Linked DNA regions of Homo sapiens. The protein of the gene in region 2 interacts with the protein of the main gene of each other region in a pairwise test. Each region holds a gene or a part of one and is shown on either strand. Other genes may lie near its edges. The genes, in order: TRIM3, DNMT1, MCRIP1 and RPS6KA6.

The links.
Region 1: the proteins of DNMT1 (region 2) and TRIM3 interact in a two-hybrid assay, tested with the Homo sapiens proteins (one large-scale study listed by BioGRID and IntAct).
Region 3: the proteins of DNMT1 (region 2) and MCRIP1 interact in a two-hybrid assay, tested with the Homo sapiens proteins (one large-scale study listed by BioGRID and IntAct).
Region 4: the proteins of DNMT1 (region 2) and RPS6KA6 interact in a two-hybrid assay, tested with the Homo sapiens proteins (one large-scale study listed by BioGRID and IntAct).

The regions. Positions count from the first base shown.
Region 1 is NC_000011.10:6,458,810-6,466,306, forward strand, and holds part of TRIM3 (tripartite motif-containing protein 3), read right to left. Parts: intron 6,924-7,497; coding exon of another isoform or gene 6,887-6,923; coding exon 6,756-6,886; intron 1-6,755.
Region 2 is NC_000019.10:10,182,605-10,190,101, reverse strand, and holds part of DNMT1 (DNA (cytosine-5)-methyltransferase 1), read left to right. Parts: intron 1-7,497. UniProt on the Homo sapiens protein: Methylates CpG residues. Preferentially methylates hemimethylated DNA. Associates with DNA replication sites in S phase maintaining the methylation pattern in the newly synthesized strand, that is essential for epigenetic inheritance.
Region 3 is NC_000017.11:81,826,724-81,834,220, reverse strand, and holds the start of MCRIP1 (mapk-regulated corepressor-interacting protein 1), read left to right. Parts: upstream 1-929; 5' UTR 930-983; intron 984-7,497. Other genes in the region: PPP1R27 (protein phosphatase 1 regulatory subunit 27), read left to right, coding at 369-492. UniProt on the Homo sapiens protein: The phosphorylation status of MCRIP1 functions as a molecular switch to regulate epithelial-mesenchymal transition. Unphosphorylated MCRIP1 binds to and inhibits the transcriptional corepressor CTBP(s).
Region 4 is NC_000023.11:84,180,432-84,187,928, reverse strand, and holds part of RPS6KA6 (ribosomal protein S6 kinase alpha-6), read left to right. Parts: 5' UTR 1-29; coding exon 30-110; intron 111-469; exon of another isoform or gene 470-565; intron 566-581; exon of another isoform or gene 582-1,736; coding exon of another isoform or gene 1,737-1,868; intron 1,869-7,497. UniProt on the Homo sapiens protein: Constitutively active serine/threonine-protein kinase that exhibits growth-factor-independent kinase activity and that may participate in p53/TP53-dependent cell growth arrest signaling and play an inhibitory role during embryogenesis.

The DNA.
Region 1 (7,497 bases), on a different chromosome or scaffold from region 2:
CCGTTGGTCACCTGTTATACTGTATGACCCCTGACAAGTTACATAACTTTGACAAGCCAAGGACTCTTCCTTTGTAAGATGGAGAAGTACAGACTTCACAGAGTGTTAGAGGATTACATGTAAAGTACTTACTTATATTTGAAGAGGATTAAATGTAAAATGCCTGACTCATAATAGCACTATATATGGTAGGCTACTTGTATTACTTATTATTAATATAAGGAATGATAGAAAGTGATAAGGAAATGCATCTGGCTCAAGCAGGTGGAGAGGGTGTCCAGGAAAGTCTTCAGAGAGTTGATGCAAACTAAATCTTCAAGGATAAATAATTGTTAGCCTGACCAAAGAATGGTGCAGGCAGAGGGGGAAGGGTAGTCCAGATACAGAAGGCAGCAAGAAGCAGCATAGTATGAATAAGCAACTGTAAGCAGTTTGATGTGGCTGGCTAGAGACAAAGTCCAAGGCAAGGAATGGTGACAGAAGTCAAGGAGCTTAGAAGTTATCCTGCCAGCAATAGGAAGCTGCAAGAGAGTGGTATAGCCAGGTTTATATTTTACCAAGCTCCTCTTCACCCCCTCTGTGTGGGGAGTGAATTTAAAGGGAATGAGACAGCAGATGGGGTTGGGGGGCGAGGGCAGTGGCATCACCAGCTAGTTACCATTTATTAAGTGCATATGTGCCAGGTGCCATGCTTTCTGATTACGTTTCTGTTAGCAGGAGAAAGGGCAAGTGGCCCAAGGTAACAACAGCAGTAGGTGCTGAAGCCTGTCTTCAAATGCAAAGTATGTGCTTAGCCAGCATACTCTTACAATCATCTAGGTAGGAAGTGAAGAAGACCTGGATTTAGGCAATAGTAATGTAGACTATGAGGTGGAAATAAATTTGAGAAGTGTTTAAGAAGGAGGGAAGGTGGGAGGTGTTGTCTGATTAGATATGGGGAGCAAGAGAGATGATGAGTCTTCGCTGACTTCCAAATTCCTAGCTTTGATAACTGAGTGGATAGTGGTGACATTCACTAAGATGAGAAACATAGAAAGAGGAGTAGCTATAGGAAAGTTCAGCCTTGTCCTGGTTGAATTTACTGTAACAATAAACACCCAGGTTGAGGTCACCAGTAGACAGGAGAATGAAGGTTAGAGACAAGAGATGGGCATGCCATCAACATTTAGATGGCTTCGGTAGCACTGGGAGAGGATGAGATCAGACAAGAAAGCATAGACAGTGATAAGAGAGAGGGACAGAGCACTTAGCAAAAACTGAATGAGGACAACAAAGAAGACCAGGCCGAGAGGCAGGAAGAGCAGCTGTGTTAGGGCAGAAAACTGAGTGGTACATTTCCAGGAGGGAATGAGTAGTCATCAGCGTTAAAAGCAGCTGACGAGTTGGGTAAGGTAAGGACAGGAAAATGTCCACTGAATTTGGCAAATGTGAGGGTACTTTGTCTGTAGGGAAAACAGGGAGGGAGTGGCAGGAGAAGGAAAGCTTGACTGCTGGAAGTTGAGTGAAGGGGAGCTTGAAAGTTCCAATGAGGAGCTGGTTGAGGGGTTGGATGGTGCTAGAAAGAGTTTTTACCTGTTTGGCATGGGAGTTTTGAGCATGTTTATGAATGGAGGAGTCAGGAGAGAAGGAGAGGGGGAAGAGACTACAAAACTGAGAGGAGAAGATCTTGAGGATTGGGGAGTGCCTCGGATTGGCCTGAAGAGGAGGACTGGACGTCAGTCTCTGAATGGAGGGAAGGAGGAAAGGAGAGGAGGATATAGAGAGGCACTAGGGACATAGGAGAGTGAAGGATGGAGGATTCAGGGGCCTGATGATGGCTCAGATTAGTCAGTGATGGGAGAGCAGAGGACACTTACTAGAAACAGACATCAGAACTGAAGGCAGCTGTATTTGGGGACCTCAAATTTGTGGAGTGAAGATCTGCATTATGCAAACTCTCCCATATCCTCAATCTCAACTCTTAATGTTTCCTATAACTTAGGATCTTAATTAAAATCTGACAAACACTATGTGCCAGGCATGATTCTAAGTGCTTCACAAGTATTAACTTATTTAATTGTGTTTTCTTTGTTTTTGTTTTTTTGGTGGCTTTTTTTTTTTTTTTTTTTTTTTTTGAGACGGAGTCCTGCTCTGTCACCCAGGTGTGAGTGCAGTAGCACAATCTTGGCTCACTGCAACCTCCACCTCCCGGGTTCAAGCGATTCTCTTGCCTCAGCCTCCCGAGCAGCTGGGATTATAGGCTCACACCATCACGCCTGGCTAATTTTTGTATTTTTAGTAGAGATGGGGTTTTGTCATGTTGGCCAGGCTGGTCTCAAACTCCTGACCTCAGGTGATCTGCCCGTCTCGGCCTCCCAAAGTGCTGGGATTACAGGCATGAGCCACCATGCCCAGTGTAACTTATTTAATTGTGACTTACTTTTCCTTGCAGTCCTCTCAAGTAGAGTGGTTTCTGTCTCATACTCCACACTCCTTAGGGCCAGAAGGTGGGCTTGAGCCCTCCCTCTTCCCAACTGGAACATTTCTGAACTATTCAACTCTAGCTCCTTTGAAGCTCATGCCTTCTATCTCTATCACTCCTCCTTATTGTTGTCTCTGCTAACCTAATGGTTGCCCCCACTTCCAATTGTGGACATCTTTCTCTTGGCTCACTCTCTTCTTCCATTACCCCCCGCACCACTCTGCCATCATTCTCAGTGGCACTAACATCCATCCCCCATTGTGATTTCTTAATTCCTTGACCTTCTCACCCCCAGTGATCTTTTCCCCCATTTCCCATGCTCCCACTAACACCCACTTCTCATCAACTATCACTGCATTTCAACCATTCTACTCTATTCTTCAGCAGCTTTCTTCCAAGCTCACTGAATCTAGTGTTTCCCCATGCAAAACACCTTCTAATTCAGCAATATCCCCTTCCTATTTGTCAAGTGTACCTGGCTCACGATAGCTTCCTAACTGGTCTCTGTTTCCACTCTTGCTCCTTTATAATCCATTCTCTCCATAACAGCTAGGGTGAACTTTTTACATTACATTATTTCCCTGTATATATATATTTTTAAAAACTCCAATGGTTTCCCATTGCACTTAAAATAAAATCCAAACACTTTCTGAAAACCTACAAGCTCCCCCTTAAACTGCCCTTATTCTCTCCAATTTCACCTCATCCCACTTTACTCCTCACTTGGCCACACTGGTTTCTTTTCTGGTATCTGAACATGTCCTGTCTACTTCTTCCTCAAGGCCTTTGCACAGATTTTTCTATTGCCTGGAACAATCTGTCTCCTTCTTATCCTCAGAACTCAGGTCAAATGTCACCTCCTCAGGGAAGCCTTCCTTGATGACTATATAGAATAGTTCTTGCCCCAAACACCCCTACTTCTCTCTGTTTATATCCTGTAAAACATTAATACAAGCTGCAGCTCTCGTTTTCTTGATTGCTTACTGTCAGTCACTGCCCACTAGAACATCCTCTGAGAGCAGGGACCAAGGGATACATGAATGAATACTAGTTGACAGTGAAGGCTCTGCAGTGAAAACTGGATTCAGATCTCAGCTATTTACTTACTGTGTAGCCTTGGAAATATTTCTTTTTTTTTATTTGTTTATTTAATTTAAGATAGAGCCTCTCTCTGTCACCCAGGCTAGAGTGCAGTGATGTGATCATGGCTCACTGCAGCCTCCACCTCCCAGGCTCAAATGATCCTCCCACCTCAGCCTCCCGATTAGCTAGAACTACAGGTGCATGCCACCACACCCAGCTAATTTTTAAATTCTTTTTTAGAGACTGCATCTCACTATGTTGTTTCCCAAGCTACTCTGGAACTCCTAGGCTCAAGTGATCCTCCCACCTTGGCCTCCCAAAGTGCTGGGATTACAGGCATGAGCAACTGCACCTGGCCAGAGATATTTCTTAATTATTTACTGACTTTGAACCTTAGTTTCCTCCTCTCTAATATGGGGATACCTGGGTGTGGTAGCCTGCACCTGTAATCCCAGCTACTCAGGAGGCTGAGGCAGGAGGATCACTTGAGCCCAGGAGTTCAAGTCCAGTTTGGGCAATATAGCAAGACACTCATCTCTAAAAAAAAAATAAAATTTAAAAAATTGAAACAAGCTGGGCACGGTGACTCACGCCTGGAATCCCAGAACTTTGGGAGGCTGAGGCGGGCAGATCACAAGGTCAGGAGTTCGAGACCAGCCTGGCCAACATGGTGAAACCCCATCTCTACTAAAAATGCAAAAATTAACCGGATGTGGTGGCGTGCGCCTGTAGTCCCAGCTACTTGGGAGGCTGAGGCAGGAGAATCACTTGAACCCAGGAGGCAGAGATTGCAGTGAGCCAAGATGGCGCCACTGCACTCCAGCCTGGGTGACAGAGAGAGACTCTGTCTCAAAAAAACAAAAACAAAAACAAAAAACAAACCAAAAAAAATTAAAATGAAAAGTTACATTAAAAAATTAAAATAAAAAAATAAAATGAAGTTAATAAAGTATCTGTTGCAGGGATTAAGGAAATCAGTATGTATAAATCACTTAGCCAGTCCCTGGCAAACAGTAAGCAATCAATACATGGTAGCTACTGTTATTACAATTTCTCAGCCAGATTTTCTCCAGGAGTGCTCAGTGATCTGGGCACAGGAGAAAGTGCAGAGACATCCAATTTCAGCTCTGATCCAACATTGAGCTTCTATTGCATGGGTTTTGCAAAGGATAAAGATGTGAAGGAACTGCAGGGGAGCCAGTCGGTCAGCCACAGGGTCCAGGATGGGCAGGAAAGACAGGGAGGCCAGGACGCAGCTGGTGACTGGGAAAAGAGGGAGCAGTCAAAGGGGCTAGATATCTATATTGTATCGAAAGTGGTGTAATGGGAGTGGGGTAACGGGAGCCAGGAGTGGAACGTTGGCGTTTATGACTACAGATAAGATTCTGGATTATAAGATTCAGGGCATGGTTGGGAGGGAGTGTTACTGAGGTGGAATGGGGGACAACCCTGAAGAAACAGTTAAGAACCAACAGGCACAAGAGGGTGGTTGTCCCCAGGCTGACAGAAGAACTTGAATGGACAGGAAAACTGAGGCCATTTCCAGTTGATAAAGGAGAGTGGGCAGTGGAGCTGGAATCTCAAAGAGCAGGGCTGGCAGGGAAGCAGTATCTCTGGTGCAGAGCCAGGTTTCCGTTGGGGCAGAAGGCAGAGGAAAAGTGCGGATAGAGGCAGTGGTGGTGAGAAGACCTAGGGACCAGGCCACCCAAGACAGAACAATGAGAGATAAGGGCCCAAGAGAATATTGTCAAAATACAGATGTGATCACATATAAAACCCTGCAAAGGCTTCATGTGGCTCTCAGGGTAAAGGTGAAATTCCCTAACAGGTCTACAAAGCCCTAGGTGGTCTGGCCTCCACCTACCTCTCCAGCTTCATCCCATAATACTCTCAGTCACACTCACTCTGCTCTAGCCCTACCAGGCTTCCTCCAGGCCTCTTACCTGACATATTTTCTCATGTCACATGAGCTTTTCCAATGGTCTTTCTTCTGTGCAGAATGCTCTTCCAACCCCCTTTACCTAGTTAACTCCTATTCATCCTCTGAATTGCTCCTCAGGGAAACCTTCCCTGATTCTCCAAACTATAACAGATTCCATATGCCAATCTCTCATAGCTCAGCACTTTATTTGCAGCACTTACTAAAAGTTATATTTATCTATAATCTGGCTATATGATTATTTGATGACTATCTTTCTCTTTCACTATACTGTTAGCTCTTTAAGAGTAAGCATTGTAAGTGATGGATACCTTAAATACCCTACTTGATTGTTACCCATTCTATGCTTGTGTAACAATGTATCACATGTTCCCCATAAATATGTAAACTATTGTGTATCAGTTTTTAAAAAGAGTAAGCACGGTAGCTCACGCCTGTAATCCCAGCACTTTGGGAGGCCGAGGTAGGCGGATTGCCTGAGTTCAGGAGTTCAAGAACAGCCTGAGCAACACGGTGAAACCCCATCTGTAATAAAATACAAAAAGTTAGCTGGGCGTGGCGGCGTGCGCCTGTAGTCCCAGCTACTCCGGAGGCTGAGGCAGGAGAATTGGTTGAACCTGGGAGGCAGAGGTTGCAGTGAGCCGAGATCGTGCCACTACACTCCACCTTGGGCAACAGAGCGAGACTCCATCTCAAAAAAAAAAAAAAAAAAAAAAAAAGAGTAAGGATCTTATCTGTTTTTGCTCATCACTGCATACCCAATGCCTAGAACAGGGTCTGGCACATAGTAGTTGCTCAATAAATGAATATTTGTTAAATGAATAAGTGATCCATAGAAGCCTAGAGGCTGGGACAGGTTGCCTTTCACTCAGTACCTGAGGACAACAAGGACAAGCAGGGAAGGACAGACCTAACTTCAAATATCCTCCAACTAGTCATAAATTGCTGATGCCAAAGCTGGTTGAGTCTGAGCACTGTTTGATTTCTTAGGTGGTGTCAAAAGCTGCCTTGAGGTTTGGGAAAGGACAGAGAAGGCCCTATTCTTGACAGGAACCATGGCCCAGTGTTATGGTTCTTATGGTTCTCTCACAGGTTCTTGCCCTCAAAACCTCATTTCCTGCAGGTTGGGGTTCACCTGCTCTCCTCCCAGGTAAGCATGTTGCCTCACCTACTACAGGTTTACACATGCTCCCTCACCCTCCCCACAGGGGAGGAGGATCCTCATCCTCCCCACAGGGTCCTCATCCCTCCCCAGTACACACATCCCCTCACCTCTCACAGAAGGTGTGCAGGCAAGGAAGAACCTTGGGGCACTGGTACCGATCCAGGCAGATGCTGCATACCAGGAACTGCTTGTCCATTGGCTGGACCTCTGGGCCAGGGCTGTCCTCCCTCTTTGCCATGGCGCCCACAGATGGCTCCCGCCACTCACACCAGCCTCTGTATGGAGAGATGGTCAGCACCAGGGAGTCCAGAACTTCTTCTCCCCACCCAATCCCCGCCACTCAAATCCCCTGCAGAGAACTTGCCCCCACCTCTTCCCTGCTAGGGGCAAGACAGGGCAGTGACTGGAAGGATCAGGGTGATGTGACCTCTGAGCCTGGTGTTCTGTTTAAGAGCACAGACGTAGGATTAGATTGGGTTTCAAACCTGGCTCAGTCTCTCACCAGCTATGTGAGCTTGGACAATCCATGTAACTTCTCTGAGCCTCAGTCTCTTAATTTGTAATTACAGGAATAATAATTTGAGAGTGTGACATAGTGCCTGTTGAGTGCATGGTACAGAGATGTCCATTTTCACTGACATACCTACCCTTCATCTCCTCTACCTCCCCCAAATCCTCCTCCAAGAGACCTGAATGGAGTGTCTCTCCTCTAACTACCTGCAGCTCTTCCATTTATACCCTGACCCACCTCTTAGCACAACTGCCTGAAACTGCACTCTTTTTCACACCCAGTTAGTATCAAGGTCGGGATTGCTTCCTGAATATCTTAAACCCTTCTCTCCAATCCCA
Region 2 (7,497 bases):
AAGGCAAAATTGACTTACCTCTTTTGTTTTGCTCCCCTGTGGTAGAATTCTAGGGGTACAGACTGCTGGGTTTCAAATGCCGCCCTACTTGCCAGCCGTATGGCTAAGTTATTGAACTTCTTGGTGCCTTGGTGTTTCATCTATAAAAAGGGGGTGGGGCTGCCTGCTCGACAGGGGTGTTAGGAAGACTGAGCTTATCAGTACAGATATGTTGAGAGCAGCACCTGTCCAAAGCCCTTCATCACTGGTTATTACGTGGTACTGTGTGTACAGTGGGGATGCTGTGGGTTTGGTTCCAGACCACTGCAGTAAAGTGAATCTAGCAAGAAAGTGAGTCACACACACATTTTGGTTTCCTAGTATGTGTAAAAGTTATTAGACTAGGCCGTGTGCAGTGGCTCATGCCTGTAATCCCAGCAGTTTGGGAGGCCAAGGCAGGAGGATCGCTTGAGCCAAGGAGTTCAAGACTAGTCTGGGCAACATAGGAAGACCCCCCCCATCTCAAAAAAAAAAATAAAGCCAAAAGTGGTGGCATGCACCTGGGGTCCCAGCTACTCGGGAGGCAGAGGTGGGAGGATCACTTGAACCCATGAGGTCGAGGCTGCAGTTTGCCATGATTGTGCCACTGCACTCCAGCCTGGGTGAAGGAGTGAGACTCTGTCTCAAAAAAAAAAAAAAATCAGCTGGGCGTGGTGGCTCACGCCTGTAATCCCAGCACTTTGGGAGGCCAAGGTGGGCAGATCACGAGGTCAGGAGATCGAGACCATCCTGGCTAACACGGTGAAACCCCGTCTCTACTAAAAATACAAAAAAAATTAGCCAGGCATGGTGGCACACGCCTATAGTCCCAGCTCCATGGGAGGCTGAGGCAGGAAAATTGCTTGAACTTGGGAGGCGGAGGTTGCAGTGAGCCGAGATCATGCCACTGAACTCCAGCCTGGGCAACAGAGCGAGACTCCGTCTCAAAAAAAAAAAAAAAATCATCTGAGTCTTCAGCGATTCATAATCTTTTTGCAGGTGGAGGGTCTTGCCTCAAACTTGCCGGCTTAAAGGACATACATTTATTACCTTATGCAGGTCAGAAATCTGATGTGGGTTTCACCGGATGAAAATCAAGGTGTAAGCAGGCTGCATTCCTTTCTGGGGGCTCCAGGGGAGAATCTGTTTCCTATTTTGGGGTGTTGGCAGAAGGTGGTAGTTGTAAGACTCAGGTCCCATTTTCTTCACTGGTTCTAAACTGAGGGTCGTTGCCCGCTTCTGGAGGCGGTCTCATCCCTCGGCTCATGCCCCCTTCCTCTACCTTTAAAGTCAGCATTTGCGGGTTGCATCTCTCTCTGACCCGTCCTCCAACGTTGCCCGCTCTCTGCAGCTAGAAAGGTTCTGTGTTCTTAAGGGCTGAAGTGATTAGATTGGGCCCACCCCAGATAATCCAGGATAATCTCCCCATCTCAAGGTCTGTATTCTTAGTTACATCTGCAAAATCGCTTTGGCCACGTAAAGTAATATATTCACAGGTTCCAGGGATTAGGGCATGAACATTTTTCGGTGGGTCCACTCTTTTTGAGATGGAGTCTCGCTCTGTCACCCAGGCTGGAGTGCAGTGGCATGATCTCGGCTCACTGCAACTTCTGCTTCCTGGGTTCAAATGATTCTTGTGCCTCAGCCTCTTGAGTAGCTGGGATTACAGGCGTGAGCCACCAAGCCCGGTTAATTTTTGTATTTTTAGTAGAGATGGGGTTTTGCCATGTTTCCCAGGCTGGTCTTGAACTCCTGAGCTCAGGTGATCTACCCGCTTCAGCCTCCCAAAGTGCTGGGATTACAGGCATGAGCCACTGTGCCCAGTGGGTCTACTCTTTTGCCTACTGCGGATGCCTTCTTGGGCAGCCCTGCTCCAGCTGCCATGCAGCCGGCCTGAAGAAGCTGGTTTGACAGAGACTTGTAACTTGTCTTGCATGGTCCACTATATTTTATTTTTAGAGACAAGGTCTTGCTGTGTCACCCAGGCTGGAATGCAGCGGCACAATTATAGCTCACTGGGCTCTAGTGATCCTCCTGCCTCAGTCTCCTGAGTAGCTAGGACCACAGGTGCATGCTGCCACACCAAGCTAATTACTATTTTTTGTTTAGGCAGGGTCTCTGCTGTGTTGCCCAGGCTGGTCTTGAATTCCTGAGCTCTATTGATCCTCCCGCTTTGGCTTCCCGAGTAGCTAGGCCTATAGGCACATGCTAGCACACCCAGCTAATTACTAATTACTATTTTTTGTAGAGACAGGGTCTCGCTGTGTTGCTCAGGCTGGTCTTGAATTCCTGGGCTCTAGTGATCCTCCCGCCTCAGCCTCCTGAGTAGCTAAGACTATAGGTGCATGCCACCACACCCAGCTAATTACTATTTTTTGTAGAGACAGGTTCTCGCTGTGTTGCCCAGGCTGGTCTCAAATTCCTGGGCTCTAGTGATCCTTCCGCCTCGGCCTCCTGAGCAGCTAGGAGTACAGGTGCGTGCTGTCATACCCAGCTAATTACTGTTTTCTCGTAGAGACAGGGTCTCACTGTATTGCCCAGGCTGGTCACAAATTCCTGAGCTCTAGTGATCCTCCCGCCTCTGCCTCCCGAGTAGCTAAGACTATAGGTGCATGCTACCACAGCCAGCTAATTATTCTTTCTTGTAGAGACAGGGTCTCGCTCTGTTGCCCAGGCTAGTCTCGAATTCCTGGGCTCAAGTGATCTTCCTGTCCTGGCTTCCCGAGTGTAGAGATTACAGGCATGAGCCACTGCGCCCAGCCATGGTCTGCTGTATTTCAGACGAGCATTTCTGGCGTAGAGGTGTTAGAGTAATCTAACATTTTATAATTTCTTCCTATCCAATCTATACTAGATACCTCTGCTGGGTTAGTTTTCTTAACACGGCTCTGATGTCATTGGTTCTACTTCCCCTTGACTGCTTTGGTGTTTGTTAACTATGGAACAAGATGGATAAGTGTGATGCTTTTGCCCTCCCTCCGACTGTCCCCAGCCACCTCTCTGGAGGTGCCTTTCCCTCCCTGTATGTGGCCAGTCTCACGTTTGTTTCTTGTGTGTTTCCAGAACCAGCCACTTCTCAATGGTGCCCCTGTTTGAGCAGCTTCCTGTGCCCGGTTCACACAGAGCTGTCAACTTCTTCCTGAGGCTGTTATACCCTTTCTCTTGGGAATCCCGCAGGCGTGAGCTGTATTTGCCTTATTCCTCTGTGGTTGTTTATATATATCTTTTTTTTTTTTTTTTTTTTTGAGACGGAGTTTCACTCTTGTTGTCCAGGCTGGAGTGCAATGACGTGACCTTGGCTCACCGCAGCCTCCACCTCCCGGGTTCAAGCGATTCTCCTGCCTCAGCCTCCTGAGTAGCTGGGATTATAGGCATGTGCCACCATGCCTGGCTGATTCTGGATTTTTAGTAAAGACGAAGTTTCTTCATGTTGGTCAGGCTGGTCTCGAACTCCTGACCTCAGGTGATCCGCCCGCCTCGGCCTCCCAAAGTGCTGGGATTACAGGCATGAGCCACCGTGCCTGGCCAGCTGTTTATATATATCTTATCTCCCCTCTGCAGAGGGTTCATCTCTGAGGGAAGCACTAGGAAGGAATCATAGGGTCTCAGGCTGGGCACTAAGCCGGCATTCTGAGTCCTCTGCTCCGTCCTTCACGGCTGTCTGCGACCCTCCTGGCTTCAGCAGGTGTGATCGGTGTCATCACAGTTTTACCAGGGAAGGGATGTCGCTAAAGTTACCCTCCCGCCAGCTCCTCACTGCCTGCCTGGGATCCCACCTGCCACTCTGGGGCCAGGCAGGTTAAATCCAGTTTCTACTGGATGAAACATTCTAGGGGTTTTGAAGGTTTCTCTATTCTCTTTGCCAGGCTAAATATCCCAGTTCATATGAGGGGTTGAAAGAAAGCAGACCCATTCTGCAAGGACACCTTGGTCTCCGCAATCAGTTGAACCTTGTCCTTCACACCCCAGGCAACCTCGGGATCAGGGGACTGGCTGGCTTGGTCGAGGTAGAAGCCATGTCCTTCCAGTTTTCTCAGCGGCGTGACTGAGAAGTCAAGTGTAACGCTATTACCACAGCGTGTGTGCCTCTGGCTGGAAGTACCAGTTTCTGTAGCCCTCCTGACTTAAGGCTCTCCTTGGACCCCAGTTGCTACAAGGGTAGAATGACTTTTGCCTGGAAGAGGTTCCTTGTGCTCCTGGAAATCCTGATGTCAAAGCATCTTTTTTTTTTTTTTTTTTTCTTTTGAGACAGGGTCTTGTTCTGTTGCCCAGGCTGAACAGGCTGGATTGCAGTGGTACCATCATAACTCACTGCAGCCTCAACCTCCCAGGCTCAAGCGATCCTCCCACCTCAGCCTCCCAAGTAGCTGGTACCACAGGTGCACACTAACCACACCCAGCTAATTTTTACATTTTTTTTGTAGAGATGGGATCTCTCAGTGTAGCCCAGGCTGGTCTCAAACTCCTGACCTCAAGTGATCCTCCTGCCTTGGCCTCCCAAGGTGCTGGGATTACAGGCATGAGCCACTGCGTCTTGCCTGGCCTTGTAGCACCTTGAGTCCAAGTGATACAGTATATATAATATACAGTCTATATTACCACTGTGTTTGTAGGGTGCTAAGTGTCTCTTCTACAGAGCAGTCTTTTTTTTTTTTTTTTGAGACAGAGTTTTGCTCTGTTGCCCAGGCTGGAGTGCAGTGGCATGATCTTGGCTCACTGCAAGCTTCACCTCCCGGGTTCACGCCATTCTTCTGCCTCAGCCTCCTGAGTAGCTGGGACTACAGGCGCCCACCACCACGCCTGGCTAATTTTTTGTATTTTTAGTAGAGGCGGGGTTTCACTGTGTTAGCCAGGATGGTCTCCATCTCCTGACCTCATGATCCGCCCACCTCAGCCTTCCAAAGTGCTGGGATTACAGGCGTGAGCCACCGTGCCCGGCCCTACAGAATGGTCTTTCCTAACCACACAGCAAGTCAGGAAGTCCCTGCCTAGTGACACCTACATCTAATCACTTAGCTCTTTGCCTGGAGCAGGGCCTGGCATTCAGCAGGTGCTCATATGTGAGCGGCGCTGGTGGGGAATCAGGGCCCGCATGACCCAGAGCAGCTGTTGTAAGACATGGGTCCAGCAAAGCATTCCTCATGCTGCTGCCTGCACTTACCCTCTAGGAAGGCCAGCCTGGAGGAGCCACTTCTGCCCTTCAGGCAAATGATAACTGAGCACCTGTCTGTGCGGGTGCTAGGTGGAAAGGTCCAGAGATGGCAGTGGCCTGGTCCCTGCCTGGGGCACCTTCTCTCCACCAACAGACACTTACCCAGCTGGTTAGGCCTGTTCTCACCCCGCAGTCTGTAGTTAGCACCCAGGCTGGGAACAACAGCCTGTGTTCCTCTCCCTTTCCTTGGTACCTTCTCTTCTTGTTCCTTTATTTTTTTCTGAAGAGATAGGATCGCCCTATGTTGTCCAGGCTGGACTCGAACTCCTGCCCACAAGCCATCCTCCCACCACAGCCTCCTGAGTAGCTGGGGTTACAGGCACGCAGCACCGCGGCACTGCACCGGCTATTGTTCTTTTATTTTTTTCCCTCTTTGTCCCTGAAAGAGTCAAGCTACTAATTGTCAGTAATCAAATCAGACCACGATTTCCCAGGCAAACTCCTGGCAGTTCTACATTTAGGAATGACTAGCTAGAGACATCCTGAAGAATGAGTTATTCGGGGAGGCGCCAGCCACCTCCTCTAACTTCACCTCTATCTGCCCTCTGTGTGGGTACCCCTTGCTTCCCTGGATGCTTGACTCCCCCATTTCATCCTCAAAATGCCACCACCCCCCACCAGGCCTTTAGGAACATCAGCTGGCTGTTCCCCACAGTGTCCTGTGGCCCTGGGCTACTCATTCTGACACTGGCCATACTGTGGCACACCTTGTTATGGGCTGTTGTCAGACCCAACTGGAGAAAGACCAGCTGTAGGTCATTTCCCTTACGGGAGTGCCCCAACTATATGACCTGCCCCCTCTTTCCTGGTATCTTTTTGAGTCAGGGTCTCACTCTGTCTCCTAGATTGGAGTGCAGTGATGCAATCACGGCTCACTGTGGCCTCGACCTCCCAGGCTCAGGTGATCTTCCTTCCTCAGCCTCCCAAGTAACTGGGACCACAAGCACATGCCACCAAACCCAGTTATTTTTATTTTATTTTATTTTATTTTATTTTGAGACAGAGTTTCACTCTTGTTGCCCAGGCTAGAGTGCAATGGTGTGACCAGCTCACTGCAACCTCTGCCTCCCGGGTTCAAGTGATTCTCCTGCCTCAGCCTCCCAAGTTGCTGGGATTACAGCCACCCACCACCACGCCTGGCTAATTTTTGTATTTTTAGTAGAGATGGGGTTTCGCCATGTTGGCCAGGCTGGTCTCAAACCCTTGACCTCAGGTAATCCACCCACCTTGGCCCTCAGGTAATCCACCCAACTGCTGCTGTATGTTGGGATTCCAGGCATCAGCCACCACGCCCAGCCACTAATTTTTGTATTTTTGTAGAGATGGAGTTTCGCCATGTTTCCCAGGCTGGTCTGAACGCCTGGGCTCAAGTGATCCGCTCGCCTTGGCCTCCCAAAGTGCTGGGATTATAAGCGTGAGCCACCATGCCTGGTCTCTGGTACCTTTTAAAATATACAGGCTGGGCATGATGGCTCATGCCTGTAATCCCAGCACTTTGGGAGGCTGAGGCAGGTGGATCGCCTGAGGTCGGGAGTTCGAAACCAGCCTGACCAACACGGAGAAACCCTGTCTCTGCTAAAAATATAAAATTAGCTGGGTGTGGTGGTGCATGCCTGTAATCCCAGCTACTCGGGAGGCTGAGCCAGGAGAATCGCTTGAACCTGGGAGTCGGAGGTTGAGCTGAGATCACACCATTGCACTCCAGCCTGGGCAACAAGAGCAAAACCCTATCTCAAAAAAAAAAAATATATATATATATACACACGTATATATACGTGTATATATATATACACACACATATGTATACATATATACGTATGTATACACATATATACGTATATATACACATATATATGTATATATACACACATATACGTGTATATATATACGTGTATATATATATGCATGCCAGACATGGTGACTCATGCCTGTAATCCTAGCACTTCAGGAGACTGAGGCAGGCGGATCACTTGAGGTCAGGAATCTAAGACCAGCTTAACCAACATGGTGAAACCCTGTCTCTACTCAAAATACAAAAAATTAACGAGGCTGGTGGCACCTATAATCCCAGCTACTTGGGAGGCTGAGGTGAGAGAATCACTTGAACCCAGAAGGTGAGGGTTGCAGTGAGCTGAGATCGCACCACTGCACTCCAGCCTGGGCAACAGAGCGAGACTCCATGTCTGTCTGTCTGTCTATCTATCTGTATAATGTATATGTATGTATGTATATATGTGTGTGTATATATATACACATATATACATACA
Region 3 (7,497 bases), on a different chromosome or scaffold from region 2:
GAGGCAGGAGAATCACTTGAACCCGGGAAGTGGAGGTTGCCGTGAGTCGAGATCATGCCATTGCACTCCAGCCTGGGTGATAAGAGCGAAATTCTGTCTCAAAAAACAAAAAAAACAAAAAAAGAACCCTGCAAACCCTAGAGGCTTCTGGAATCCTGTTTCTGCCTTTGTCCTCAATAGAACCAACTTGAAAAGCTGGCCACAGCTTCCAAAGGGTCAGGTTTCTTCCTCCTCACCCTACCCGGACCTTAGGACCCCAAGGTGGGGGACACACAGGTGACCCCAGGACTCTGGCCCTCTGACCCGGGTTGGGGCGAGCACTCTCCTGGCTCCTCCCCGCTTCAGCCAGAGCGACCTTTACACCCCAGGTACCTTATCTCCCTGGGAGCGGACAGGGATGCAACCAACGACGATGGCGACCTGCCCTCCGACCTCATCGACCCGGACTACAAGGAGCTGGTGGAGCTCTTCAAAGGGACCACGATGGACTGAGCCAGCTTTGCCCGCCCGCCCCCGCGCCCAGGGCCGCCTCCCTGGAGAAGCCGCGCGTCGCCCATGGGCCAGCACGTGCCCCACCCGTGGGCCAGGGGCGGCCGGACCCGTCCCTCCACGACCCCGCCACCCCTCCTAGGCCTGGCTTTGTCCCCAGGTGAATTTTTTACTGTGACACTTTTTACTTTTTCAATAAACGTGACTCCCAGGTGAGGGGGCCTGGGTCTACACACGTGGTCCCTGTGGTGGTGTCCTGATTACTGGGCTCTGGCCGCTCCCAGTGGCCGGCGGCGCTCACCGTTCGGGCCAGGGAGGTCCGGAGCTTCCGCCACGAGCCCCAACCCCGCACGGGAATCCCGGCCGCCCCCGCCCTCCGCCAGCCGGGCGGTCACGTGAGAGCGCGCTGCGCCTGCGCCTGTGCAGCCCGCGGTGGCGTCACTTCCGGCGGGGCCTCCCAGCTGGAAGAGGCGGTGGCGGCGGGTCGGGGCGAGGTGAGGCGGGTGCGGCGCCGGGCGGCGGGGACGGGGCGGGGCGGGGCGGGCGCGGCTGGGCCCCGCCCTGGTGTCGCCGCGCGGCCGCGGGTGCCCTGCAGGGCCGGGCGGGGCCGGGCGCGGGGGAGTGGCCGGGCAGCCGGGGTCCGAGGGAGGGGCCCGCGTTCCCCGCCCGGCACCTGCAGGAGGGCGCGGCCCGCGGGGCGCCTGGGAGCGCGCGTGGGGAGGGCGCGGCTCGGACTGAGCGCCTTTCCCGCCCAGGCAGGGGCAGGTGCCGGGGACCCAGCGCCGCCGGACGCTCGCAGCGGGCCAGCCTTCTGCCGCCGTCGGGGCTTTGGGGCTGACAGAGCCCCGCTTTCCCGGTCTCCTGGAGGGACCGTGCCTGAGGATGCCTCCGATTCTCGGAGCGCCGCGGGCCCGGCCGTCCGCATTCTTTTTCTGTCCATTTTTCGGCCTTGCCCTCTTTCCCGTCTCCCCGGGCGGTGATGCTGGGCCTAACGGGGAGAACGGGGCCTCCGCCTGCCTTCTAGGCACTCACTGGGCGGTGGTTGTGACCGCGGGGGCGGGAGCCATACGGGGCACGGGCTGTGCTTCTCTCCCTCCTGCCCCTGGGTAGCCGTCGCAGGAAGGTGGTCTTTCAGCTGGATCCCCAAGGATGAGTAGGATAGTTTTGGGCAGAGAAGACAGCTTGACCAAAGGCCCTGAGGTGTAAACAGGGACCAGTGAGTGGACTTTGGGTGGGATGTGGCGAGAACGTGTAGAGAGGGTGGGAAGTGGGACGTGAAGGAAGAGCCAACAGGGCTGGATTTGGGGCGAGTCAGGGGAGGTTGTGGTTTGAGTGGGATCAGGATGGGGAGGAGGGCGCACACGCTCAGGCTGTTGCTGCCACCACCCAGGGGAGAGGGTGAGGAGGTGGTGCAGCGCTTAGAGGCTTTCCCTGGGCGGTCTTCAAGGGACCACGAGGTGCCAGTGTGGCAGCTGTGACAGCCGTATCCTCGTGCGCCTGCTTGGGCAATAGATCATTTTCTAGCCTCGTTGGCTGAAAAAGACACAGAACACGAAGAGAAAGTGGAGTCTTAGAAACTTTGAATCTCAGAAACTCCGGAGGAGCATGGTGACTAGCGATGGCGTCACTGATTCTAACTCTGGAACCTCACTATTGTCACGTTGCTGGAGTGTTACCTCATGGCCTGTTCTTAGGCATGTGGCTGTGTGGGGGAAAGAATTTGGGACTGGGAGGCCAGAGACTGGGGTTCTGTCCCCTCCCCACCTGGAAGTCTCTAAAGCCCTTGGGTCCCCTGGAGGAGGAAGGTTCTACATAGTTCTACCCAATGCGACTCCCCTCCCTATCTGGAGGGAGGGCCAGTCTCTGAGCAAAGCCACATGGGTATCAGTAGGGAGTGGGTCTTTCAGGGAGTCCAGAAACCTGCTGTAGGGTGCAGGCAGAGTGGAGGCAGACTTTGGGAGGCTCAGGCCAGCTGCAGCATTCGGGCTGAGCCCCAAATGCTGTGGCCCCGGAGGCCCTGGGAGGGGCACCGCTGCTTGGTGGCAGGCTCCTTCAGCGCTGAACTGGAAGTTCTCAGGGTATCTTTCTGGTCCAGCTGTGGGGATGTGGGCAATGTGTGTAAGGGCCCAGCGTGGTGGCTGCCCTGCCCTTAGCCCGACAAGTGTTTGCTGTGGCTGGTGGCAGTCTCTTCTTTCAGTCCCCAGTGCTTTTCTGGGCCTCCACCTTCCTAAGAGTGGGCTGACTCTACATTCCAGTTTACCCAGAAGAGTTGTTTCATTCTTGATAATCAACAGCATCCCTTTCGTTCTTTTTTTTTTTTTTTTTTTTTGAGGGCAGAGAGCAGAGATGGGGCCCTTTTTTGTTTGTTTGTTTGTTGTTTGTTTTGAGATAGAGTCTTGCTCTGTCTCTGTTTCCCAAGCTGGAGTGCAGTGACATGGTCTCTGCTCACTGCAACCTGCGCCTCCTGGGTATAAAGCGATTCTCCTGCCTCAGACTCCTGAGAAGCTGGAATTACAGGTGCATACCACCATGCCTGGCTAATTTTTTTTTTTTTTTTTGAGAGACAGAGTCTTGCTCTGTTGCCCAGGCTGGAGTGCAGTGGCACAATCTCGGCTCACTGTAACCTTTGCTTCCTGGGTTCAAGCGATTCTCCTGCCTTAGCTTCCCAAGTAGCTGGGACTACAGGCATGTGCCACCACGCCCAGCTAATTTTTGTATTTTTTTTTAGTAGAGATGGGGTTTCACTGTATGTTGGCCAGGCTGGTCTCGAACTCCTGACCTCAGATGATCCTTCCACCTTGGCCTCCCAAAGTGCTGGGATTACAGGCATGAGCCACTGCGCCTGGCCTAATTTTTGTATTTTTTTTTTTTAGTAGCAATGGGGTTTTGCCATGTTGCCCAGGCTGGTCTCAAACTCCTGACCTCCTATGATCTGCCCACCTCAGCCTCCCAGAGTGCCAGGATTACAGGCGTGAGTCACCGCACCTGGTCGAGATGGGGCTCTTTCTATGTTGCCCAGGCCAGTCTTGAACTCCTGACCTCCCAAAGTGCTAGGATTACCACCACATCTAGCCCCTTTCTTTTTTCTTTTTTTGAGATGAAGTCTCACTCTTGTCCCCCAAGCTGGAGTGCAATGGCGTGATCTTGGCTCACTGCAACCTCTGCCTCCCGGGTTCAAGCGATTCTCCTGCCGCAGCCTCCTGAGTAGCTGGGATTACAGGCGACTGCCACCACGCCTGGCTACTTTTTGTATTTTTAGTAGAGACGGGGTTTCACCATGCTGGCCAGGCTGGTCTCGAACTCCTGACCTTAGGTGATCTGCCCACCTCAGCCTCCCAACGTGCTGGGATTACAGGCGTGAGCCACCACGCCTGGCCCCAGCCCCTTTCATTCTTAACAGCATCCAGTTGAACCATACAGCACATGCTTGTCCTGTCCATCATCGTATTGGATAAGGAGCCACAGAGACCTCACTGAGCTGCTGGCTTTCCATGGCTGTGCTTCCGTCCCTATTGGAGCAGGCGAGCCTACCTGTGGGCTGCATCACTTTGAATGAGGATGCTGAGGCTCAGAGGAGCTTGCCCGGGGCCCCAGAGCAGGGGAATACCTGCAGCCCAGTAGGCCAGGCCCTGTAGGCTGGACGGCCACGGAAGCAGGCAGTCACGTCCTGCAGAATGCACAGACTTGCAGGTGGCCTGTGCTCTGTGTGGCTGGTGGCAGGTAGTCCTGTGGCAAAGGCTGTTGGGGCAGGAGTGGAGCAGCAGGTGACACCTGGTAAAACAAGTTGGGACTGGACAGTGGGCTTGATGGCAGCAGAGGGCCTGGGTGACACCCTAGTGCTAAGTGACTTGGGGATAGGGTTTCAGGAAGATCATGTAGACATCTGTGTCCACCTGTCCTGATGCTGGGTGTCTGGAACTGGAGGTTGTCCCAGCACTGGGTGGGGTGGGGTGGCGTGGGATGTGGAAGACTTTGAGGGGAAGGGGAGAAAACACCTAAAGACCATGTAGCCTGAGGGGCTCTGGAAGGGTGGTCCTGGGCCAGGAGAGTGTCATCGAGGGTCCTCCCATGTGAGACCCCAGCCATTGTGAGCTGCGCTATATTTTACAGTACATTGAGAAATAAAAACCACCATTGGTTAAATTCTGACGTGTTAGCAATTGTCAGGCGCAGCCCAGTTTCAAAGATGTTAAAATATGAAAACTATGAAAGAAAACTCTCAGAGGCAGTGGGGTGTGGTGTAGCGACTGAGGAGTACGGGGCCGTGGCCGGGACATCGGCATGCTCGGTCTTGATTCTGACAGAAAGAGGGAAGGAAAACGGGACCGAGGCATCGCCTGACCCTCCCTTACTGCTGTCACCCTGGTGGTGGCCCAGGTGGGATGAAGGCAGGGGGCCGGGCTGGATGGGGTCTCGAGACCTCTGAAGTGGGGCTGTCTCTCTGGGCTGAATGGAGCCCCTCCCTCCCACCCTTCACCTGTGGTCGGCCTCGGTCAGGCCGCCACTCCCCTTTACCTGGGCAGCTGAGGTGTCAGTCTCCTGCTGGCTCAGGGGCTGCCACCTCAGGTGGCCGTCTGCCGTGTGCTGGGTCTTTTCCGGCTGCCCCCGGCGCTTCTCTGGGCCTGTGCCATTGTCCCCTGCTCACTCTCACCCACTATGGTCCTGGGTCCCTCCACATCCACCACCTCAGGGACCCCATGCATGGATGTTGTGCCTCAGGGTTCCCTCTGCTTAGCCAGACACCAGCCTGCTGCCCACCAGGCCTGAGCTAGGGCTGAGCTGCCTGCCAGCCACACTTCCTGCCCTCCCCCCTCAGCTGTGTGCCTCACTATGCTAGGCCGCCCCGCTGAGGTTGTTGGAGGCCTTATTGTGGCTCCATGGTGACCTCTTGGTTCAGAGCTTGCTTGACCTCCAGCCCTCTCCGTGGATGGCTCCTTCCTGCCCTCACAGGCACCGTCCTGGCCCCGGCTCCAGTTATGTCCATGCCTCGGCCCTCTGCAGCTTCCTCCCATTCCATGTGTCCCAGGGCCTGTCTGTGGCCCCTCAGGTCCTGCTCTTGTGCTTGGTGTCCGTCTCTGCGTGGGGGCTGTGGTGCCCCCTCTGGCTGCTGATTCCCTTATGGGAATAGGCCAGGTGTGCATTGCTACCCTTCTGCGGTGGCTCTTCCCTTTGGGTAATTACGAGTGAAATTCTCCAGCTGTCCTTGTACGCATCTTGGGTGTGTGTACCTAGGAGCAGAATGGCTGGGTCATAGGTTGTGCACAGATACTTGATTTTTAATGGAAAATTCCTTCTGGGTCAGAATTGGGCACCCAGCTCCTTGGCAGGGCCCCAGGAGGCAGTGAGGCTGAATGAGCTGCAGAACCGTTTATTGTGCTTCCAGGGGGACAGCAGGCCCCTGGCCTCTTGGAACTGCTGGCACATCCAGGAAAGCCTGGGGCTATGTGTGCAGGGTCGGGGGGTGGGGGGGCAGTGTGAGGCCCTGGGGGTCCCTAAGCTGGAGGAAGAAGTAGGGAGAGGTGGGAAGGGCTCTTCGTGTCTGGGAAGACTTAGAGGACACAGCCTGTGGTATTGAGGGTGTGGGTACATTTCTTTTCCTAACAAGAGGAGGCAAACGAGACTCCTTGTTGACTTAAAAAACTGTATGGGTGCAGCTGGGTGTGGTAGCTCACACCTGTAATCTCAGCACTTTGGGAGGCCGAAGCAGATGGATCACGAGGTCAGGAGATCGAGACCATCCTGACTAACACAGTGAAACCCCATCTCCACTAAAAATAGAAAAAATTAGCTGGGCGTGGTGGCGGGCGCCTATAGTCCCAGCGACTCGAGAGGCTGAGGCAGGAGAATGGCGTCAACCCGGGAGGCGGAGCTTGCAGTGAGCCAAGATCGCGCCACTGCACTCCACCCTGGACGACAGAGCGAGACTCCATCTCAAAAAAAAAAAAAAAAAAAAAATGTATGGGTGCACAATAGGTGTATATATTTATGGGGTTTTAAATTTATTTACTTAGAGACAGAGTCTCCCTCTGTCACCCAGGCTGGAGTGCAGTGGTATGATCATGGCTCACCACAGCCTCCACCTCCCAAGCTCAAGCAATCCTACCACCTCAGCCATCACTCCTGCCAAAGTTTTTATATTTTTGTAGAAATGGGATTTTGCCGGCCGGGCGTGGTGGCTCACGACTGTAATCCCAGCACTTTGGGAGGCCCAGGTGGGTGGATCACAAGGTCAGGAGATCGAGACCATCCTGGCTAACAGGACGAAATCCCGTCTCTACTAATAATACAAAAAATTAGCTGGGCGTGGTGGCGGGCTTCTGTAGTCCCAGCCACTTGGGAGGCTGAGGCGGGAGAATGGCGTGAACCCGGGAGGCGGAGCTTGCAGTGAGCCAAGATGGCGCCACTGCACTCCAGCCTGGGCAGCAGAGCGAGACTCCATCTCAAATAAATAAATAAATAAATAAATAAAAGAAATGGGATTTTGCCATGTTGCCCAGGCTGGTTTTGAACTCTTGGGCTCAAGTGATCTGCCCTCTTTAGCCTCCCAAAGTGTTGGGATTACAGGCCTATTTTAATAGGCCAGCAACCGTACCTGGCTTTTTTTTTTTTTCTTTTAGACGGAGTCTTGCTCTGTCGCCCAAGCTGGAGTGCAGTGGCACGATCTCGGCTCACTGCAACCTCCGCCTCCCAGGTTCAAGCACTTCTCCTGCCTCAGCCTCCTGAGTAGCTGGGACCACAGGTGCCCACCACCACATCCAGCTAATTTTTGTATTTTTAGTAGAGACAGGGTTTCACCATATTGGCCAGGCTGGTCTTGAACTCCTGACCTTGTGATCCACCCGCCTCGGCCTCCCAAAGTGCTGGGATTACAGGCGTGAGCCACCACGCCTGGCCTTTTTTTTTTTTTTTTTTTTGAGATGGAGTCTTGCTCTGTCGCCCAGGCTGGAGTGCGTTGGCGCGATCTTGGCTCACTGCACCTCCACCTCCCGGGTTCAAGCGATTCTCCTG
Region 4 (7,497 bases), on a different chromosome or scaffold from region 2:
GCTCCTGTTTGAGTGCTCCTGAAGGGGAGATGCTACCATTCGCTCCTCAGGACGAGCCCTGGGACCGAGAAATGGAAGTGTTCAGCGGCGGCGGCGCGAGCAGCGGCGAGGTTAGTGTGGTGGCCAAGACGGGCTGGAGCCAACCCCCGCCTCCTTCCCCTCAAGACCTTGGCTGGGGACGGAGAGAGGAGAGGCGTAGGGCCGGGAAGCGGGCTCCCGGGCAAGCCCCCTTGATGCTGCCTCCACTGCCCTTTCGCTGGGGAGCGGGCGGGGATGAGACGGCGGGCTCGGGCTTGCGGAGTGAGTGCAGCCTGGGCCCGGGCTCGGCCTTGGGCGGAGCGCCTGCCTGGCGGGCCACGCCAGAGTTGTTGTGACTAAGTTTCTTCACTTTCCGACCCGAAGGGGAACTGGGGGACTGGCGGGGTGCTGTGCCTGACTCCGCGCGTCCCTTTTTCTCCGCCGCGCCTAGTTTGCTGGCTGGGAACATTTTGGGGGACAGCTGCGGACTCCAGCTCGCTGTTGAACCCCGGACGCTTTACGAACCCAGTGCAACAAACACACCAAGGTGACTAAGTAACTCTGGGGACATTTGCACATAGGCACGAGTGTTCCCTGGTAACAGCTTTCTCGTTTCTCTGTGGCTTGTTATGGTTCCTTGTAATGACCCATGTCGAGATACACTGGCGACCTATCTCCAGTCGCCAGGTTTCAGGTGATGTTCTACTGCTTCCTCTCAGGTCCCCTTGATTCTACTGCACTCTTGCTCCACCCCTTCTCCTTTCCACAACCGCTGTCCCTGCCCCGTTGGTCTGTAAAAGAAGACGCAAAGTAAACCCCAGCCCTTATAAATAAGTCGAATCTTTGGTAAGACTTAGCGAGGTTCAACCAAAATACTTTGGTTCACCTCTCTTCCCACTCTTCTTACTCTGAAACTGTTCTGGTTGGGCTTTGGTCAGCTGTGCAGTGAGAACTTAGATGTACACAGGTGCTTTGTTTTTATTGTTGTTATAAAAGCGGGCAGCATTTAAACACAAAAACGTGTCTTTTGTGATAGAAAGTTGGATCCTTTTCTGATAACTTAATCGACTGCGTACTACTCCAGTAGAGGCCACCATACACCTCCTAAAAATAGTTGGTGAAATTGATTCACAGTAGGATATTTTGAGGTAAGACTCTCAATCCTCGACATCTAAAGGGTGCAACTTTGTCTTCAAGTACTTGCTCCATTTAAAAAAAATACACATTTGGCTGTTGTATGATTACCTTGTTTTTTTTTCTTTAAATTTTTTTGTTATTTATCAACTAAACTGGGGTTAAGATTACATGCTAGAATAACATGTGGTAAGGAATATAGTGGAAATAAATTCAGAAGTACCCTAAATCTGAACCCTCTATACTTACAGGAAATATTTTACTAGTAAACCAAGCAATTCCAATATACGTTTTAATATTTTACATCTCGTAAGAACAAGATAAATGAATAGGCGTTCCTTTCTTGTTGAAATGTGGGAATGCTAACTGTTTGCACAATTGTCTAGCAAGTCTATTGAAGGGGAGAGGAACTTTGTTATATTCATGTATGTAACTTACTGAACTTATAGGCATTTAGTTTATAAAAACAGTTAAATGCTTTGATATAAGGATGGGATGGGAGGTGGGAATCCTTTTGCATGCCTACTATTTTATTATTTCTGTTAACTTTGAATGTAGTATGTTTTAAATTGTAATTACCACATATGGTTTTTTTATTGTTTGCAGTATGTTTTAGGTATTGTAGAGATTTAACAATGGGTCTCTCTACCTCAGCAATTTGGAAAAATACTCGAGTGGAAATTGTTAATCCCTATGAAGTAAAACGAAAGGTGAAGGTAATGTGGTGAAGATAGTATTTCTGCCTTCTTTCTCTAAAACAGTTATGATTGGTTAGATTTAACCCTGCAAGTTACTTAATAAAAAATATTATAGGTGAAAACTAAATGCTACATTTGAACAGACCCACTTAGTACTTAGAAGAGTTTGTTTGTTTTTAATTATATTCTTTTGATAAGAAGTAAACAAGTTTACTTTTGATAATTTATATTTTAATTACAAATTTGTTGATGTTGGCTTTAAAAATGCTAATTTTGAGTACAAGCTCTACAACCCTCAATTGTGATAATTTTAGGACTAAGAGTGTTTTTGTTGTAGAATATATATTTTTAAAATGTGCTAGAATCCTTAAAGAAAATGTAGGTAAGAATCTGTTAACTTTAATGTCAAAAGAAATAATTTCCGTCCATTTCTGTGTGTGTTGAATCTGGTAAGATTAAAGATTATAGACACTACCATATATTTTGGAGTCTTTTTGTATCTTTTACCTGTCTTGCTTGCATGGACAGTTGTTAACCTTTGAATTATCATTCAGAAGTGTGTAAATTGGTTGTTTGAGACTCTTAACATGTTTTCCCACAGGAAAAACTTATTAAGGGTACTTATATTTTTAGATCAGTACATAATAGCGAGGTATAATGATGCCGAGCCTAACCACTGTTTGTAAAATTGTTCTGTGGTGAAATGTGTCAGGTTTCAACCAATAACTAGCTTGGTTCCAGTGAGAGGTAGAGAATGGGCCTGAAAAGGGGAAACCTGGAATCTTTTGGTTTCTGGGAAGAGAGTTCTTAGAAGAGGGGAAATAGGGTAAGCAAGAAACTGATTGTGAGAGCTCTTGCAGGGACTGTCTCAATGAGGTCTACTGGGAATAGGAACTTCAAAGGGCATCACCCCTCACGCAGTCACAATTTAAGCTTTTGACTGGATTCTGTCAGGATCAAGAAAGAGGTTTTACTTGAGATGGGATGGGTATTGGTCATTCCTGGGCAAGGATCATAAAGAACAACCTGTTTGACTAATGTGAACTTTTCATGATTTAATGCCATGCATGTTACAGTTTGTTCGCTTAGTTGTTTGTTTTTTGGTGAGGAACCAAGTGCTTCTTTATCAAGTTGATGATGTAATTTTCACATTTCATATCATAGTAAACGTGTAGTACTTTTATATTATTTCTTTAGCAATGCTGTTTTTATTTAAGCAAGTTAGTTTTTTTTTTTTTTTTTTTTTTTTGAGTCAGGGTCTTTCTATGTCATTGTACATTGTCCAGGCTGGCCTCGAACTCCTGGACTCAAACAATCCTCATGCCTCAGGTTCCCGAGTAGCTGGGACTACAGGTGCTCACAACCATGCCTGTCTAAACAAATTAGTTTTGAGAGTATGTAGTTTACTGATAAAACCAATTTGGGAAAAACTTCTAGTTTTAATTAATTTTCATGAGACCCTATAGTAATAGAGGAAAGAACAGCTTTGAAGGCAGGTAAATCTGGGTTCTTGTCCGAGCTCCATGCCATACTCATGATGTGACACAATCCACGTTACCTAACCTCTCTGAACCTCACTTTCTTTGTCTATAAGTTGGAGAAAAAACATCTTCAAGAGTTGTTATGTAAAGAAAATTCAGTGCTGGGTTTAATAAACTTAGCAAGATGTTTTGCACTTAGTCTCTAGTACACAATAGTTCCTTCTCTTTTCCCACAGTCATCATGCCTCTTCCCATGCCCCTAAAGTCTGAACTATTGTCATCTATGTTAAAATCCTGGGATTCAGATAACCATGGCCTTAGCCGCAGCCTTCCATTTCGTAAGCAGTTTTTCTTAAGACCCCTTCCTAAATTTGATCATTTCATCTAAGTATAGTGGTGCTCTCACTGTGAATGTTTGTAATCACAGATAGGGTGATCCAGAGATAAAATACAAAGTTATATTTAGAAACAGTGGAAGGATAAGAAGAGACAGATAATTTCATTTATTATATCTGGCTGATGAGGTGTTTCATTGAAATTTTTAATTTTTTAAAAAAATTCTGAACTCTTGTCATGGTAGGAATTGGTTCAATTCATGAAGCATTTATTGAGTACAAGGCAGTGCTGTACATAGTGCTGTAATGTGAAATGCCTAAAAATATACCACAGAGTCCCACCCTACCCCCACAGGTTTACATTCAGGTAGTAAGACAGGCATGTATGGAAATTGTTATTGTAAAAGGCACAAGATTATCAACAATGGGGTGGTGGTGGTGGTGGTGGGGGTGGTGGTGGTTTAGGAATGGATCTGGTAAGGCTTTGTGAAGGAGGTGGAATTTGAGCAGGGCATTAGAAAGTGATAATATTTTCACAGACAGATGAAAGGAGCATATTTCACGTGGATGGGCACAATATAAGAAAAGGCATGGAAATGTTCTGAAAGAAGGAAGAATCTGATACTGTTGTAAGTCTGTGATGTGGGAGAGGGGATATAGTGAGAGATAAGGAATGTATTAAAGGTAAGCTAGGCCCAGGTTGAATGGGACTTTTTAAGCCAGTTTAAGGGTTCAATTTTATCTCATAAATAGGAGCCACTGAAGGTTTTTGAGGACATGAGTGACATTATTAGATTTGTGCTTTGAAAAATAATTGACGGTAGTGAGGAATGGGGGAGATATGGAAGGTGGGGAATTCCAGCTAGGAGGCTATTGTGTTAGTGGAAGTAGTAGTGAGATTTTTGAACTAGTACAGAAGGGGTAGAAAAGAGATGACTGATGGGAGAGACCTGGCAGAGGTAGAATAGTTACAATTTGGTAACTGATTAGATGTTGGAGAGTAAAAAGAAATAACAAACAATTGAGATTAGAAGCGTCCTGGTAGGAATTAATTCAATGTAACAGGTATTTAATGCATACCTGCCAATATAAGTCTCTGTATTAGCCACCAGACTAATATAAAAATAAATAGATCTTTGCAGTATAGGGAGATAGAAAGCTAAAATGAAATCTCCCCTTTCTAATATTGTATTGAATAATAGCATTCCACTCTGAAGGTTTCTGATCGTGCTTAGAATGCTTAAATTCTTTACTACCAAAGGTGAATACACTTATTACTAGCTAAAACATTTTTAATTCTTTTTAAATGGGCCTTAGGCCTGTAATTCTTGTTTCACCAATGTTCATCTTCAGTAGTCAGCAGCCGTGAGTACAGAGTCCTATTCTGAAAATAATGACCAGTACTTATTTCTGGAATGTGGAAGGAGAGCAGGGACATCTGTATTTTTTCTATGCTTTCACCAGGTTTATTTGGAATAGACAAGCGGGGAGGAGTCAGAGGGCAGTGGCCCCTCCCTGCCACAGGTGCCTTCTCAGTTCCTCCAAGTCAATCTTTCTTTAAGCCAGTCTGATCTGGAAATATTCAGGTCAGTTCCTTCAGGGCAGGTCCTCTATATTTCCCTACCTTGATTAGTTCATCAAGAGAGCTAATCATTACCTCTGTGTTCCATGATAAGGCCTACTGATAGTGTAGTTGCTTTTCTGGGCCATATTGTTTTAGTACCTACCCTCTCATAGTCTCTCTCATCTAGAATTTTGATGAGGAAATGCAAGATTTTTTTCCCTTCCTGTAATTTCTTTCTTGGTGCTATCATTGTATGTAGCAGCGGTTCTTAAGATTTGATAAGCACTTGGAATCTTGAGGTATAAGCCTTTCAGTACTTTGTCAGAATTTGCTATGTAATGTTTATTCATTTATGTTATTTCCAAGGATTATTTACTGTTGCTGCCAATATTTTTTTTTGTTGTGTATTTTCTTTATTTTTGTTTGTTTTTAGGTAGGAAAGGAGTTAGATGGGAGAGAGATTTAGAGAGCTGAGCTAAATCTGGCTTTTGCAGATAAGAGACGTTTTCTAAATTGCCCTGGAGACATTCTGTAACTGATTTCACTGCTAGATTTTAATCTGTATCTCTACATTAGAAACAGGTCCTGCTGTAGTTTTGTGTGCACGTGTGTGTGTGTGTGTGTGTGTGTGTGTGAGAGAGAGAGAGAGAGAGAGAGAGAGACAGAGAAAGAGGGAAGGTGGAGTAGAGTGCATGTGTGTTACTTGTGATTTGCTTCATTTTACCAAGCATTTGAGATGGTATATGGGAAATATAATCTGATAACTATTTTGATATTGAGGATAAGGGAAAACAAAGTAGGAGATATATGAAAAGGGTGGAGGGTAGGGGATGAAGGGTAAAATAGAGCACAAATAAGCAGGCTGTAAGGGTCTATGACATGTTTAAAATATAGTTGAATTATAAATTTGGCCTTGAGTTTTCTTAGCTGGTTTTTCTCAACTCTGGCTGTGTGTTATATTTACCTGGGAGTGTAAAAAAATTATCCATGCCAGTGTTCCACTCAGAGATTCACATTTAACTAATCTAGAGGGGGCCTGGGCATCTATTCCCCAGATGCTTATGATGCACAGCCAGGGTTAAAAACCACAGCTCTAGGCCAAAGTAAAAAAAGAAATAGTCACGTAGTTGTCATTATTCAATAGGAAAAAAAGAATATTAATTTGTAAGCTAGCAATTAGCTCTGCAGTAAATTATCTGTGAATTGTGATATTTTTCTGTGTGTTTTATTTTGTTGTTGTTTTAAGATATGACTGGAGCCAAATTGGGTTGTTTGAACTGCCCTGTATGTTCTTGCTCTTTAGTTTTGAGGAATTTGCTTTTCCAGTAGCATTAAAAACAAAATTTAGTACCGTAGCTAGTTTTGATATAGTTCAGCCATATAACTAAGAGGTTAAATAACTTGTTCACCCATTTTACTAGCTGAGTAAGGAGATAGTGACTCTGTTTTGAATGACAAATATCCCATTACATCTCTAACAAAAAATTTCAAAACCCATGGGTAATTATTACTAAGAAATCCCTCTGCCTCTCCTGTAAAGTGATTGAAGACAAACTTTAAGAGGAAATATAGCAATTTAAACACCCAATACAAATTTTTTAACCTGAAAAAACGTTGGAATCCATTCCATTTAAAGGTATCGAATCTTAAGGGAGAAAGAGATAATAGCGTTTATTGAGCATGAACTATGTACCAGCTAGTACTAGATGCATCATAGATTATCTCAGTTTTATTCATTCTTCAAAACATCTTGGTAAGACAGTTATGTCTTTTTAACAGAATAGAAAGATACATGCAAGTTAGTAGGAAATACGTCTGGAATTTGAACCTAGATTATTTTAAATTCATGCTTTTTCCTCTATACATTGCTATCTCCCCCCTAAGGACAATATTGAAAATAAGGAGAGAATATAGATACGTTGTTAGCAACCATATTAGATCAGCAGTCAGATGTGCTGATTCAATAGCCATGCCTGTCTATTTAAGTTAAATAAATGTCAACAAAATCCCAGCAAGTCTGTTTTTTTGTTTTGTTTTGTTTTGTAAACAGACAAGCATGTTCTAAAATGTATATGTAAAAGTACAAGACCTAGAAGCTCTAAAACAATTTTGAAAAAGAAAAATAAAATAAGGAATTACTCTATTGGATATTACGTTTTACTATGTAACTATAATAAAGACAATGTGGTATTGGTGGAAGAATAGACACGTAGATCAGTAGACCAGAATAGAGTACACAGAAATAGAGCCACACAAATACACTCAAC